Regions from separate parts of the Homo sapiens genome. Here region 2 is linked to region 1. Evidence: fine-mapped expression QTL. A gene starts in region 1. The other region holds a variant in brackets. All regions are shown on one strand. Distances are between the middles of the regions.

What was found.
Region 2: its variant is fine-mapped to the expression of TRAP1 in ovary (GTEx, PIP above 0.99).

What each region holds. Positions count from the first base shown.
Region 1 is chr16:3,715,294-3,720,663 of GRCh38, reverse strand. It overlaps TRAP1 (TNF receptor associated protein 1), which reads left to right and starts at 3,140. Exons shown (of 18, transcript NM_016292.3): 1 at 3,140-3,243. The coding sequence starts at 3,156. RefSeq lists silencers at 2,790-3,399, 3,420-3,539.
Region 2 is chr16:2,809,929-2,815,298 of GRCh38, reverse strand. No RefSeq gene overlaps it. Among named protein-coding and RNA genes, the nearest start is that of PRSS21, 4.6 kb to the left of the region's middle. RefSeq lists enhancers at 1-360, 2,503-3,232, 3,233-3,963. The variant G/A (reference allele first, on the strand shown) is at 2,544.

The sequences.
Region 1 (5,370 bases):
CGTTTCCTGACACATCCTCTTCCACCCAGCTCTGTCCCGGCCCCACTGAAGGTCACTCTCCTGGCTCCTGTGCTTCTCTGCAGCACGTGCCACGAGCTGGAGTCGCTATTTTTGTACAGTTATTAGAGTGTGGCAGTGAATCTTCAGTGTGCCTCCGAATTACCTGGGAACCTCAGTGGAGCCGCCTGGGCCCCACTCCGGGACTGAGGAGGTGCCGGGAAATCGGCATTATGAGGCTGCAGCTGGGTCTGGACCAAATGTTAGACCAGGGTGTATGGTCTGAATCTCCAACTAGTCTCTAACCTCCAGCAAGGTGTAAAGCAAAAACAAATTCTTTTTTTGCTGTTGTTTTTTGAGATAGAGTCTCACTCTGTTGCCCAGGCTGGAGTGCAGTGGCACGATCTCAGCTCACTGCAACCTCTGCCTCCCGGGTTCAAGCGATTCTCCTGCCTCAGCCTCCCGAGTAGCTGGGATTATAGGCATGTGCCGCCATGCCCGGCTAATTTTGTATTTTTAGTGGAGACAGGGTTTCTCCATGTTGGTCAGGCTGGTCTTGAACTCCCAACATCAGGTGATCCGCCTGCCTCGGCCTCCCAAAGTACTGGGATTACAGGCGTGAGCCACCGTGCCCAGCCGGCAAAAACACATTATAAGTCCCCCAACCCATGGAATGGATCATTCCTCTCCACCAAGGGGATTTCAAAGAAACCTAAAAAACTAGTTCAGGCCATAATTGGAAGGATGGGGTGGGTCCTGCCTCATTACACCCTCCACCCCTTGGAAATGAGGCACAACTGACCAGCGTTAACATTACAAAGGACTTTTTTTTTTTTTTGAGACGGAATCTTGTTCTGTTGCCCAGGCTGGAGTGGGAGTGCAGTGGTGCGATCTTGGCTCACTGCAATCTCTGCCTCCTGGGTTCAAGCGATTCCCCTGCTTCAGCCTCCCGAGTAGCCTCAGCTGTACACAGGTGCACACCACCACACCCAGGTAATTTTTTTTGTTTTTGAGACAGACTTTCACTCTTGTTGCCCAGGCTGGAGTGCAATGGTGCGGTATCAGCTCACTGCAACCTTCACCTCCTGGGTTCCAGCGATTCTCCTGCCTTAACCTCCTGCGTAGCTGGGATTACAGGCATGCGCCACCACGCCTGACTGATTTTTTGTATTTTTAGTAGAGACGGAGTTTCTCCCTGTCAGTCACGCTGGTCTCGAACTCCCGACCTCAGGTGATCTGCCCGCCTCAGCCTCCCAAAGTGCTAGGATTACAGGCGTGAGCCACTGCTCTTGGCCTAATTTTTGTATTTTTAGTAGAGATGGGGTTTTGCCATGCCGACCAGGCTGGTCTCAACCTCCTGACCTCAAGTGATAAGACCACCTTGGCCTCCTAAAGTGCTGGAATTACATGCGTAAGCCACCATGCCAGGCCACCTTTGCAGGTCTTTTCCTGATCCTGAGGGTCTAGGAATTTTTAACGGTCTGAATAAACAATATTTGCGAAAACATTTGCCATCTATTACCTGTAAGGGTGGTCATCTATGAGACTTCCTCTACATAATAAGAACCTTGGTCTTCACAACCTGTTTTTTGTTTGTTTGTTTGTTTGTTTGTTTTGAGACAGGGTGTGGCTCTCTTGCCCAAGCTGGAGTTCAATGGCACGAACTTGGCTCACTGCAACCTCTCCCTCCTGGGCTTAAGCAATCCACCCACCTCAGCCTCCCTTGTAGCTGGGATTACAGGCCTCCGCCACCACATCCGGTACAGGTATGTTTGGTACAGACAGGGTCTCACCATGTTGCCCACGCTGCTCTCCAACTCCTGACCTCAAGCAATTCGCCCACCTCGGCATCCCAAAGTGTTGGGATTACAGGTGTGAGTCACCGTGCTCGTGCCCACAACCCCTTATCTTCACCCAGACACTCTTTTTATTGATTCCAGGTCTGTATAACTCAACTCTTTTTTTTCTTTTTTTTGTTTTCTTTTTTTTTTTTTTTTGAGACGGAGTCACAGCTCTGTCGCCCAGGCTGCAGTGCAAGTGGCACGATCTCGGCTCACTGCAACCGCAGCCTCCCGGGTTCACGCTATTCTTCCGCCTCAGCCTCCCCAGGAGCTGGGACTACAGGCACGTGCCACCTTGCCCAGCTAATTTTTTGTATCTTAGTAGAGATGATGGGTTTTCACCATGTTGGCCAGGCTGGTCTCGGACTCCTGACCGCAGGCAGTCCGCCCACCTCAGCCTCCCAAAGTGCTAGGATTACAGGCGTGAGCCACCGCGCCCAACCAGAACTCAACTCTTTTAACCAATTGCCAATCAGAAAGTATCTGAATCCACCTATGACCTCTAAGTATTTCACCCTTTGAGTTGTCCTGCCTTTCCACACGGAACCAACCTATGTCTTACATGCATTGACTGATGTCTTATGTCTCTCTAAAATGTATAAAACCAAGCAAGCTGTAACCCAAGCACCTTGGGCCAAGTTCTCAGGACCTTTTGAGACTGTGCCTCCCTCCATGCACACTCATATTTGGCTCAGAATAACCTTCTAAATACTTTAGAGTTTGACTCTTCTCGACAAGGACAAGAGAAGTGGAATAAACGAATAACCGCAGTTTTCCTGGTGGTATTGGTCACTGGGTTCAGGTTTTGGAGTAGTAGCCAGTCAAGCCTGGAATCCCCTTCCTCATTCGCTTTAGCTTTTTGTCCAGTCTTGGTTTGCAAGAGACTTGCAGCGGCCTAGACGGATGGCCGGGATTCACAAAGGTCGCAGACACGGGAACTGCTTCTTCCCCAGCGTCGCCTCCACACCCTCGCGTGGATACTGACATCCGCCCCATTCCAGGAATGCGCACAGCTAGGCGCAGCCGGCCAGCGTGGGCCGGGGGCGGCGGGGCCACCTCCCCCACCTCCGCGCGCAAGGCCCGTCGCCCTTGACAACGCGATCCAAGGTCACGGAGGTCCCACCCCCAGGCCCGACCGTCCACGAGACGGGTAGTACCCCGCCACGCGCCCGAGCAGGCAGCTGCCCGGACAGCCCGGCGCCCGCCGTGACGTCACCGCCCCGCGCCCGAGGAAGCCCCGCCCCGCGCAGCCCCGTCCCGCCCCTTCCCATCGTGTACGGTCCCGCGTGGCTGCGCGCGGCGCTCTGGGAGTACGACATGGCGCGCGAGCTGCGGGCGCTGCTGCTGTGGGGCCGCCGCCTGCGGCCTTTGCTGCGGGCGCCGGCGCTGGCGGCCGTGCCGGGAGGTGAGGGCGTCCTGGCTGGACGGGCAGCGGGCGGGCCGGGCCACGGAGACGGCAGGGACGTCCCTGTGCTCCGGGGAGCGAGGCGCCGGCACCTGCTTCACAGGCGTGGGAGGTCCGGCGAGGCCAAGCGCGGCAGACGCGTTTACTTTCGCTCCGCTCCTCGCCAGCTCCAGCTTGGCTGCCTTTTCCTCGGCTGGACTCCCCTCGCCACCCGCCCATGGGAGCCCTGAAGGAGGCTGGGTCTTGGGGGGTCGCGGGGTCGGGCGGAGCGGCTGCGGGGTCGTCCCTCCTGGAGCTTCGGTCCAGTCAGGTAGCGCACGTGCAGGTGGAGCCGCTGCGGAGCGCGGAGTCTTTGCGGGTGCATGTTGCGGGGAATGGACTCACTCGGGGTGATCGTGCTAGTTCCATGGATCGTGCTTTACCCCTCCCCGCCTCCCAGTAGCGCACTGAGGGTTCATTTGTTAATTCGTTCATTGGACGCACATGTGAGCGCCCGCTCAGTGCCCGGCGCCGTGCAGGTTCTGGGGACGCCACAGTGAACAAAACCTATAGCAGTCATCCGGGTCCCCAGAGCAGGTGGACTCGATGTCGTTGACGCAGCTGTGTCCTCGGGGCCTGGAATTGATGGATGCGCCAATAAATGTTTGTAAAACAGAGAGAACGACCCTAACCTCTGCTTTCCCAGTCCCCACTCGGAGGTAACAACAGTGAAAGTTTCGGCATTGCTTCGGGGCTGTACACAGTGTTATACGTGTAAATATAAATGTCTGCGTATAAGTATTTTTTATTCTAAAAAGCCTAAACCATGTATGCATTGTGCTACGTTGTACTTCAGAAAATTTTAACGCTCCCAGCATTCTTTCCACATCTTTTCATGTCAGTGTATACAGGTCCATGTGCCTTCCAGTGACCACACAGTATTCTGTATGATGGACGTGTCATTTGTTTAAACATTGTCCTATTAGTGGACGCAATAAAGGTTATTTCAGGTTTTACTTTTTATTACAATGCTGCATAGAATGGGTGAGTACTTAAATATTTGTTCACGTGCGGTATTTCTTTAGCCTTACATAATTAGAATTTTAGAATTGATATTTCAGAGCCTATGCATTTTTGAAATGTTAGCAGATACTGCCAAATTGTCCAAAAAGGCCTTATCAATTTATATCCCCTTTAGCAGGCATCAAGACTGCCTATTCCAAAGGTATTTTCTTCAACGCTGAATCTTATGTCTTTTCAAAACCAGTGGTCTATAAAAGATACCTTGTGGCCGGGCGCGGTGGCTCACGCCTGTAATCCTAGCACTTTGGGAGCCTGAGGTGGGCAGATCAGGAGTTCAAGACCAGCCTGGCCAACATGGTGAAACCCTGTCTCTACTAAAAATACAAAAATTAGCTGGGTGTGGTGGCGCGCGCCTGTAATCCCAGCTTCTTGGGAGGCTGAGGCAGGAGAATCGCTTGAACCCAGGAGGCAGAGATTGCAGTGAGCTGAGATTGCACCACTGCACTCCAGCCTGGGCGACAGAGTGAGACTTCATCTCAACAACAAAAATAATAATAATTTTCCCTCAGAAAGTGATGCTGTTGCTCTCTTCTAGCACCAGTGTCTGATCAATTATTTATTTATTTTTTTGTCTTTATGAGGTGGGGTTTCACTATGTTGGCCAGGCTGGTCTCCAGTGCCTGACCTCAAGTGATCTGCCTGCCTTGCCCTCCAAAATGCTGGGATTGCAGGCGTGTGTCACCGTGCCTGGCCAACTGTTCTGTTAATTTGGTTCTCGTTTCTTTTGTAGCTGACTCGGGTTTTTTCCCCCTTGGAGGTTAAGATTTTTTCTCTTTGTCGTTTGTGGTCTCGCGTCCACAGGTGTTTGTGATTCATGCTTTGTATCATGCACTGTCCCTTCCATTTGGAAAATATGTCAGTTTTCAGCCCAGGGACATTTTAATTCTGTTTCTTTATCTCTTTTTCTTTTTCTTTTTTTTTGAGATGGAGTCTTGCTCTGTCACCCAGGCTGGAGTGCAGTGGCGCGATCTTGGCTCACTGCAAGCTCCGCCTCCCGGGTTCAGGCCATTCTCCTGCCTCAGCCTCCCGAGTAGCTGGGACTTTAGGCGCCCACCACCATGCCTG
Region 2 (5,370 bases), 910 kb after region 1:
AGTCACAGAGGGGTCTTCCCAAGCCCCACACCTGGAGGGCAGGGAGGACAGGGACTTGTGGTCCTAACCCGACTCCTGACACATAAGGGCCAGCCGGCCCGGAGCCACCTCTGCGGGCAGGAGAAGGCCTCATTGTTCCCTTCTCCTGGCAGAATGAGGACTGGGGCGTGCCCGGGGCAGGAAATAAATGCTCAGTAAATCCCTCTCTTGGGAGCCCTGATCCCAAGGGACAAAGGGCCTGTGTTGAGTCTCCCTGGGCACGGGCTCGGGGCCAGCACTTGGGCCATGGCAGATGGAGGGTGGGAGGAGGGTGCCTCCCACCAGGTGGGCTTCTTCCCCAGGTCAGGCATGCAGGTGAGGAGCGTCCTCGTGTGTGCATGCCCCCTGCGTGCAGGAGAGGCTGGGCGGGTGTGTGTGTCTGGGTGTATGTGTGTGCATGCATCTTCAAGTGCACGTGTGTGAACGACCATGTGTGATCCCCGTTCTCGTGCCATCTGAACATCCCCTCCAGTGTGCATTTGGGTGAGTCCTGGCGCCCCTCTGGCCAGGCTGCTAACTATCCCTTCCACCAAGTCCCCTCAACCTCAGCTGGTGCTTCTGGAGTCCTGGCCCAAGTGACTCTCCTTCTGGGCGCCAAACCCTGTCAGCCTGGAGTTAGAAAGAAGGCCCCTGAACTGCCAGCAAAACATGGAAAGACAGGTCGGGTGCCATGGCTCAAGCCTGTAATCCCAGCACTTTGGGGAGCCGAGGCGGATGGATCACAAGTTCAGGAGTTCGAGACCAGCCTGGCCAACATGGTGAAATCCTGTCTCTACTAAAAGTACAAAAAATAGCTGGGCATGGTGGTGGGCACCTGTAATCTCAGCTACTCTGGAGGCTGAGGCAGGAGAATCATTTGAACCTGGGAGGCAGAGGTTGCGGTGAGCCGAGATCGCACCATTGCACTCCAGCCTGGGTGAGAGGGCGAGAGTCCGTGTTTAAAAAAAAAAAAAAAACAAAAAACAAAACAAAACAAAACATGGAAAGGTGCCCTTAGGCTGGGCTAGCGCGAGAACACAGCCCGCTTTGTGGCACCTCCAAGCTCCTGCCTCTGAGAGCTGTGCTGGCCAAGGGCTTGGCCTCTTCCACCTCCACCTCCCTGAAGGAGGCTCCTCCTGAGAGGGACTCCGCTGCCCACTCCCTGTGCCTGGCCCCTGCTATCCCTGAAAGTCAGAGGAATGCTGGACGGGTGGTGCAGAGGGGTGGGAGCTGGGTGGGTGGTGCAGAGGGATGGGAGCTGGGTGGGTGGTGCAGAAGGGTGGGAGCAGAGGTACAGTGGGGGCCTCATCTTGGCACATCAGTCAGTGGGAGCCCAGCTCTGACCAGCCCCTCCAGGGAGACGGTGCAGGCGTCACAACCAGAGCCAGGTGCCAAAACTAAAGTGAGGCTCTGCTCCCGCCCTGTCAGTCTCTGGCAACTTCTGTTTTGCTTTCTGTCCCTACGCTTTTGGCTGCTCTAAGTACTTCATATGTGTGAAATCACACGGTGTTCGTTTTTTGTGACTGGCTTATTTCACTGAGCACAGTGTCTTCATGGCTCATCCATATCGCTGTATGTGTCACAATTTCCTTCCTTTTTCTTTTTTTCTTTATTTTATTTTATTTTATTTTTTGAGACAGGGTCTCCCTCTATTGGCCAGGCTGGAGGGCAGTGGTGAGATCTTGGCTCTCTGCAGCCTCAGCATCCCAGGCTCAATGTAATCCTCTTACCTCATCCTCCCAAGTAGCTGGGACCACAGGTGCGGGCCACCACACCCAGCTACGTTTTTATTTTTACTTTTATTTTATTTTATTTTTTTTTTTTTTGAGACTAAGTCTCACTGTCGCCCGGGCTAATGTGCAGTGGGGCGATCTCGGCTCGCTGCAGCCTCTGCCTCCCGAGTTCAAGTGATTCTCCTGCCTCAGCCTCCCGAGTAGCTAGGACTATAGGCGTGTGCCACCACGTCCAGCTAATTTTTGTATTTTTAGTAGAGACGGGGTTTCACTATGTTGGCCAGGCTGGTCTCGAACTCCTGACCTTGTGATCCGCCCACCTCGGCCTCCCAAAGTGCTGGGATTACAGGCATGAGCCACCGCGCCCGGCCCATTTTTATTTTAAATTTTTTGTAGAGCAAAATGTTATCCAGGCTGGTCTTGAACTCCTGGCCTCCAGCGATCCTTCTGCCCTGGTCTCTCAAAGTGCTGGAATTACAGGTGCGGGCCACCCATCCATGGCCCCCCTAGTTCTCTTGTCCTCCTTCCCCTCACTAAGACAGCCAGAACAATGAATAAACAATATTTGTTTTTGTTTTTGTTTTTGTTTTTGAGACAGAGTTTTGCTCTTTTTGCCCAGGCTGGAGTGCAATGGCGTGATCTCAACTCACTGCAACCTCCGCCTCCCGGGTTCAAGCAATTCTCCTGCCTCAGCCTCCCAAGTAGCTGGGATTACAGGCACCTACCACCATGCCCCCTTTTTTTTTTTTTTTTTTTTTTTTGTATTTTTAGTAGAGACAGTTTCACCAGGTT[G/A]GCCAGGATGGTCTCGATCTCTTGACCTCATGATCTGCCCGCCTTGGCCTCCCAAAGTGCTGGGATTACAGGTGTGAGCCACCGCGCCTGGCCAACAATTAACTTTTAATGAAAATAACTGAGGAAGAGCACCAGAGTGCTTTAGAGGAGTAACAGAAACCTGGTGAGCAGAGAAACTCAGGATGGCCGCATGAAGAACAGAAGGAAACACTGGGCCTGCACCCCAGTCCTCAACCAGGATCAGCTGGGAATGAGGCAAGGAGGTAAGCAGGGGATCCCAGGAGCCCCACCAGCACCTTGGACACCTATAGCCCTCACCACTAGCGTCCCCTGTCCTCACAGGCACTAAGCCCAGGCAAGGGGGCTAACTGAGGCCGCACAGCTGAGCTCCCTGCAGAGGAGCCCACAGTGAGCCCATTTCCTGTGGTCACGTGGCTACCGCACTGCGCCAGCGGTGAATTGGAACTACAGCCAGAGCATATCTTGCCCTGGGATTGAGTAGCCACAGTTGCCCTTTATCCCTGAGACTAATCCACCACTGAACAACCTCAGCCTGGTGGCTTCACACCCCTAAACTGAGCCGTGAGCAGCGGTCACACCCTTGCTCCTGGGGCCAAGCAGTGGTGGAGGTGCTCCACCTAACCTTCCCCCTTCTCCGCTCAGGCCAGAGCTGAAGCCACAACCTGCCTCCCGGGAAAACAGCACCTTGGCTGCTCAGAGCTGAAGTTGGAGAAGCGTGCTGCATTCCAGGAAATGGTGCCAGGGCTACCCAGAATAGTCTCATTCCCCAGGCCTAAGCTAAAGCAGCCCACTTCCCCCAAGAGATCATTGCCCTGGCTGAGCTGAGCAGCTGTGAATCCAGGGGTTGACCTGATGTAGTAGCTCGCATCCCAGGGAAACATTGGCTCAGCAGTGGCTAAGCTGAGACACCCTGCTGTGGGCCATCTCCAGCTGAGACACCGCCCTCTGGGCCAGCTCCAGCACCTTGCCTCCCTGGATTAGCCTCCTAGAGATAGAGATAGTCTCCCTGCGCTGCTCCCTGCCTTCCCCTCGAATGTGCTGTTTCCTGCTACCTCCCTCCCCAACAGGACTGAAATGACAGCTGTGCTCTGCCACTCTGCCAGTGTATCTGGCTTCATGAAGTCGGGGATACTGCCAAGCCCTACCTTCTCGGGGTTCAGAGTCACTACTGCATGGAGCCTCAGCCCTTGAACCCTGAGTTACGCTGAGCCCCTGAACCGTGAGTTACGCTGAGCCCCTGAACCGTGAGTTACTTTGAGCCCCTGAACCCTGAGTTACGCTGAGCTCCTGAATCCTGAGTTACGCTGAGCCCCTGAACCCTGAGTTACGCTGAGCCCCTGAACCGTGAGTTACGCTGAGCCCCTGAACCGTGAGTTATGCTGAGCTCCTGAATCCTGAGTTACGCTGAGCCCCTGAACCGTGAGTTATGCTGAGCCCCTGAACCGTGAGTTATGCTGAGCTCCTGAATCCTGAGTTACGCTGAGCCCCTGAACCGTGAGTTATGCTGAGCCCCTGAACCGTGAGTTACGCTGAGCCCCTGAACCCTGAGTTACGCTGAGCTCCTGAACCCTGAGTTACGCTGAGCCCCTGAACCGTGAGTTATGCTGAGCTCCTGAATCCTGAGTTACGCTGAGCCCCTGAACCCTGAGTTACACTGAGCCCCTGAATCCTGAGTTACGCTGAGCCCCTGAATCCTGAGTTACGCTGAGCCCCTGAACCCTGAGTTATACTGAGCCCTATTGGCTCAGGCCCCGGAGTGGCAGCCATACCCTGATCCCCAGGTTTAAACATGAAGAGCACCACATCTTCCCCAGAGTTGGGTCATTGCTCTGCCCCCCACAGTAGAATCACAGCTACAACCCAGCCCCCTGGGCCTGACCTGCTAGAGAGTGCGTCAGAAGTACAGATCCTGGCTTTGTGGGCAACGCACATTCAACCCTGCCACAGAGAGTAAGCCTGCACCCAGTGACCCAGGCCTTGCCTCAATTTGTACGCCAGGCTCTGAGCCTAGGACCCCAGCCCCACAGCTACTCCAAGCACCTGCAAACGAAAGCCAGTGCCACTGCATTGTCTTGTGAGCCATATCAAGCTTGACACTAAAAGGTCCCCTTTGGCTGCATGTCCCCATTGTGGGGAAAATAAGAATAGGAGGATCCCAAAAGCCCTTGACATCAAGGACATTAACAACCACTGCCACAAATCTGTACAGCCTGGGCCTCAAGGCACCCACAGTTATTGCTGATGCTCAACACAGCTGAAGAGCTGCACCGAGACCATATCACTGCACCCATCTGGAAACACAGCCACCACACCCTTTCCAACCAGCACACTAAGACCCAACTGCAGGTAAAAGTCTATCTCTATGAAAGCCACTCTAGAAACTTTGGAAGAGGCGATTGTTCCACCAGGTGTACAGACATCGGTGCAAGGACACAAGAAACATGAAGCAGCAAGAAAATCTGGCATCAAAGGAACATAATTGTCTAGTAACAGAGCCCAGTGGAAAAGGAAATCAGTGAACTGTCAGAAATAAATTCAAAATAATGATCTTAAGAAAACTAAATGAGGCCGGGCATGGTGGCTTACGGCTGTACTTTGGGAGGCCAGGGGTGGGGGTGGATCACCTGAGGTCGGGAGTTCAAGACCAGCCTGACCAACATGGTGAAACCCCATCTCTACTAAATACAAAAAATTAGCCAGGCGTAGTGGCACATGCCTGTAATCCCAGCTACTCAGGAGGCTGAGGCAGGAGAATCGCTTGAACCCGGGAGGCGGAGGTTGCGGTGAGCCAAGATCATGCCATTGC